Linked DNA regions of Homo sapiens: region 2 is linked to region 1. Evidence: fine-mapped expression QTL. Tissue or cell type: whole blood. Region 1 holds a variant in brackets; the other region holds the start of a gene. All regions are shown on one strand. Distances are between the middles of the regions.

Evidence for each region. PIP is the estimated chance that this variant, and not a neighbour inherited with it, causes the effect.
Region 2: it holds the start of KIF27, and the variant in region 1 is fine-mapped to the expression of KIF27 in whole blood (TOPMed, PIP above 0.99).

What each region holds. Positions count from the first base shown.
Region 1 is chr9:83,888,041-83,890,540 of GRCh38, forward strand. KIF27 (kinesin family member 27) reads right to left here. Exons shown (of 18, transcript NM_017576.4): 7 at 1,044-1,213; 8 at 449-552. Among named protein-coding and RNA genes, the nearest start is that of KIF27, 32 kb to the right of the region's middle. The variant A/G (reference allele first, on the strand shown) is at 1,529.
Region 2 is chr9:83,920,003-83,922,750 of GRCh38, forward strand. KIF27 (kinesin family member 27) reads right to left here and starts at 1,430. Exons shown (of 18, transcript NM_017576.4): 1 at 1,369-1,430. LOC105376335 (serine/arginine repetitive matrix protein 1-like) reads left to right here and starts at 899. Exons shown (of 3, transcript XM_011519284.2): 1 at 899-1,259; 2 at 1,352-1,696. The coding sequence starts at 899. RefSeq lists enhancers at 962-1,711, 2,326-2,748 and silencers at 1,033-1,412, 1,443-1,592.

The DNA of each region.
Region 1 (2,500 bases):
TGATGCATAAAAATTCTTAGCAGTTGTGTACTAAAACATTACCAACACCCAGTACACTAATTGGGCTCTAATGCCAAATACATCATTGATGTTAGGCACAAGTCCCAGTGAAGGAGTAGACACCTAGTACAATTATTTATACTGTATTTTAACATCATCAGGAATACAAAGCATATCAATTCAGGTCTGAATATAAAAATCCTTATTCTGAGGGAGTTAGCCTATATCTCTCGCTATAATTAATTGATAGAAAATCTTTTTTTATTAAGGAGTAAAAGAGTAAAAGAGGTAAAACAGAGAACATAAAAGAAGTTCTACCAACTAGGAAAGCATTTGTACCAAATTCTGGTCTTTGAGAATTCCTGGATGTTTCTTAAATTATCAACTGAGGAAAAAGATAAGTGTCCTATAACCATTAGGTCTACATTATTTAAGAAGATCTATGTACCTTCATTCTCCAAATCTGACTTTTGTGTTTCATCCTGAGTATCACTCAATTCAACAAGGGAACAAACAGAGTCTGGCTTCTGAATCCATGAACGACTTCTACATCTTAAAAAAAAATCAGAAAGTTAACTTATTTGTTCGTGTTTTCTAATCTGCCCTCAAATTAGTTTCCCCGAAAAGTGAAAGTAATGTTAAAAAAATTATTAGTTACATATAAAAACAGAATGTTACTAATATTGCTCAAAATAAAAGGATGCCCCCCCCATCCATGTTGAATCCAGTAGAAAAGTCATGTTTGTTGCCAACGTGGCAGCAGAATAAGGAAATCCAAAAAAAAAAAAAAAAAAAAACCTCTGAAAATTAGAATCTCATTACTATAAAAGCTCTAAAAGCAAAATTATTTTTCAGTTATAAGACTGATGACTTGTGTTCAAATACTATTTTCATAACACATTAGATGATAGTACTTTTAGCAAAAGTTACCTACTCTTCTATTAAACATAAAAGATATACTCCAATGGAAAAAACCTACACTTCTATATTTATTGCAGCATATAATTCTAAATATTTATTAAATCAGTGTATATTTAACATACCTAGTTCCAGATTTCTCTTGGCCTTCTGATTCTTCATCATCACTGTTATCAGAAAATTGGCAGTGGAGGACCTTATCTTGTTCTTCTATGTGACCCAACAGCATCTGACTTCGTGTTCGAAATCCAGCAAATATTCGATCCAGAGAGTACATAGGCGGACTTGTGTGGACCTTGCAAGTGATTCCCCCACCCAACAACAAAAAAAGTGATATTTTAAAAGTCTAATTTTATCCTATTACTCTAAGTGCTTTTAAAGGGGTTATTAGATTGGCACTCTTAAAATAGCCAATCACTGGAAAATGCTCCCCTCAAACAAAGGTCAAAATTAATTTAACAATACTGTTGTGCCTCACAGACAAATACTTCTTTCAGAATCCACACAGCTCCTTCTCTTCTGGACAACTCTTCTATCTTCACTTACAGAAAACAGTATTCAAAAATGAAACCAAAAGAACGCATGGAAAACATCCTAGCTCTTAAACACA[A/G]CACAGACACACCCCAACAAATGTACCCTCTTCCCCATCTTCCCAGTTCAGAACACCTGGAGAACTGTGGTGCTGCCGCCAAAGGTCTGCATCCCCTCCAATCCAAATCCTACCACAGGAAGAAACCCAGAGCCGTCTCCACTCCCTCTGCCAGGGCAATATTCCTAATCTGAATACCACAATGTATATACTTATTCTTTATACATGGTAGTTAGGTATAGCTGAATTAAGGCTCTAGGAAAAATATTTAATATATGTCATAGGACAAATAAAATCGTATGGCTAGCCTGGGAGTTTTCTATAGTACAACATTCTTCTATTGGAAATGCACTTTAAATTCTCAAAAAAAAATGACCTTGGAAAACAACAACAATAAATTAGAAATTGCCTTTATACCTTTGTTCTGGTTTCTATTACAAAATATTTCCTCTGCACCATCTCTGTAACCAAATCTCAAGATGACTTCTCTCAAAAGGCAATAAAATCTTAGAGGAGACAGTCCATTTATCAATATAAATTATTATAAGCTGTTAAAATTATAACATATAGTGGAATATGAGTATCACACAGTGTTTAGGATTTAATCACTTGACAATAGGCCCCCGTCATGTATTCTCTCCTAAAAAATCCTACCTGATTCTGAAAATCATCTTATATCTGATTTTTGTGCTTCTGCTGTCAGTCACCTAATTAGATCATCTGTCACATCAGCATCATGATAGATGGGCGTAAAGTTTTTTAGGTGGCCTCCCAATGGGGTATGAGGGAGGGGAATTCTTTAAGAAGAACCAACTCAAGAAGTACTGATCTAACAAATACAACGTACTAGACATGGCTATTTTATCCCATAACTGGCAGGCATCTAGTTTTCTTTTGTGAGAGTTTGGGAATTATTTAAGGAGCAAATAATAAAATCTTTGTTCAGAGTCCAACTTCATTCTCTGGGATTGTAATTTCCTTTTAAAATTTCTT
Region 2 (2,748 bases), 32 kb after region 1:
AGGTGGATCGCTTCAGCCCACGAGTTCCAGACCAGCCTGGGCAACATGGTGAAACCCTGTCTCTACTAAAAATACAAGAATGTGCCAGGCTGTGGTGACGCACCTGTAGTCCCAGCTACTTGGGAGGCTGAGATTGGAGGATCGCTTGAGCCCGGGAGGTTGAGGCTGCAGTGTGCCACTGCACTCCAGCCTGAGTAACAGAGCGAGACCCTGTCTCAAAACAAAACAAACAAACAATAGTAATGGTCCACAAACATAGGGCTTGTAAAACATCAATATACAAGAAATAAAGTTTTTACACAATCCATAGCACTTATACTTCAGATTCTGATCAATTATAGTCATCAGAAACATACGTATTATGTTGCCAATAAATGATTTAAAAAAAAGCAAAATCTGATTGGTCGTATTTAAGTATACTCAACGGGTTTTTGAAATCTGAGCAAAGGCAAGAGAAATATTGAATCCCTCATGTCATGTCACTGGTCAGGAATGAGTGTCTCCAAAAACCGTTGCCATCCCGTACCCTTGATTTCCCAGAAAGCAGTGGTTGTCTTAAATGTGTGGTTTGTTAATTATTTTCATAAAAAACTTGCCAGTAGATGGACAGTAAATCGCATACGGAGCTCAGAAAAGGCCCCAAATGCGTAAAGACGACAAAAGAGTAAAGAAGGGCAAACAACAAGGATTTTCAACACTGGAGACTTAAAAGGTGTTACTTAAAAGGTGTTTCAAAGAAAGAATCTGGGCGCTTTGCTCTTTATAGTCACCTGCCTCCGAGGGAGGGAGCTCTCGGGCTTGAATGTGCCCAAGGTTCAACCTCTACGGTAGGAAATGCGCCCAAGTTTCAACCTCTACGGTGGGAAATGCGCCCAAGTTTCAACCTCTACGGTGGGAAATGCGCCCAAGTTTCAACCTCTACGGTGGGAAAAAGACGCCTGCGATAAAACAAAGCGCTCGGTGGTGGTGGCCCTCGCGTCGCACCTCACGCCGTGCAGCGACACGAGACGAACACAGGGTGCGCTCTGAAAGGCCGGGTCCCGCGTTCCGGTCGATCGGTGTTCCCCGGGACCCGCTCCTCAGGGCTGACCCAACTTCCTCCGGAAGGGGCGCTCTGCCTCTAGTCGCTCGCCGGCTCCCAGCCCCGACCCCAGACCCCTCGGACGCCCCCATAGGCCTAGCTGGCGCCCCAACCGCCCACCCTCCGCTACCCACCCGCGGCGGCCCCGACCCCAAGCCGGAGCCTACTAGTCCCAACGGCCGGCTGGGGGCGCGGGAGCGGCGGGCGCGGCGGGCTGGAGGGCGGGCACCGCGAAGGGAGGGCGCCCCACTTCCCCGCACCGCCCGCCAGGCCCGCCGAGCACTGACCGGCTCGGGACAGCCCAGGCCCCTGTCGGCGAGCGCTGGACTCCTCAGCTTCGCTCTGCCACACCGCGCAGCCGCCGTCCGCGTCTTTTGTTGTCGCGAGTTCTCCTGGCAACCGGCGAAGCCCGCCTCCCGCCGCGTCCTCTCCTGGATGCCGCGTCCTGGCCCCGCCCCCATCCTGGCCACGCCTCCAAGCCCGCCGCGCAGGAGTCCTGCGTCCCCAGGAAGTCCGCAAAGGGCCGGCCCCTGGGCTTGCCTGCAAATCCGAGTTGTGTCCCACCAACGCGCTGGGACCGGTCTGTGAGGCCTGAGCGCAAGCATCTTTCTACGGGTTCGTGAAATGAGTGAGAACGATTCCACACCGTGTTTCAATATCTTAGCTACCAATTCAGTTTATTTTTATTTTTATTGAGTAAAACTTGCCTAACATAAACCATCTTAAAACTCACAATTCAGTGGCGTTTAATGCATTCACAGTGTTGTGCAACCATCACCTCTGTATATAGTTCAGAAACATTTTCATAACCCCAAAAGAAAATCCCCAAACCAGTTAGCAGTCATTCCTTCTGGTTCCCCTCTCCCCACAACCCCAGCCAGCCACTAATCTACTTTCTGACTCTGTGATAGCTTTACCTATTCTGGGCATTTCTTTATTGATGGAATCATTCAGTATATGACCTTTTGTGTCTAGCTTCTTTTGCTTAATGTTTTCAAGATGCAGTCATGTTGTAACATCTATCAGGACTTCTTTTCTTTTTTTTCTTTTCTTTTTTTTGAGACCGAGTCGCGCTCTGTCGCCCAAGCTGGAGTGCAGTGGCGTGATCTCGGCTCTCTGCAACCTCCACCTCCCGGGTTCAAGCGATTCTCCTGCCTTAGCCTCCCGAGTAGCTGGGATTACAGGCGCGTGCCACCACGCCCGGCTAATTTTTTGTATTTTTAGTAGAGACGGGGTTTGTTTCACTGTGTTAGCCAGGATGGTCTTGATCTCCTGACCTCGTGATCTGCCCGCCTCGGCCTTCCAAAGTGCTGGGATTACAGGCGTGAGCCACCACGCCCGGCCCTTTAGATGGAGTTTCGCTCTTATTGCCCAGGCTGGAATGCAATGGCGCCATCTAGGCTCAACGCAACCTCCACCTCATGGGTTCAAGCGATTCTCCTGCCTCAGCCTCCGGAGTAGCTGGGATTACAGGCATGAGCCACCCTGCCCGGCCCTATCAGGACTTTTTAGGGCTGAAAAAATTCCATTGTATGGATATAGACATACCACATTTTGTTTATCCATTCTTCAGCTGGTGGTGGACATTTGGGCTGTTTCCATGCTGCTATGGACATTCACATACAATATTTGGATGTCTGTTTTCAGTTCCTTTTTTTTTTTTGAGA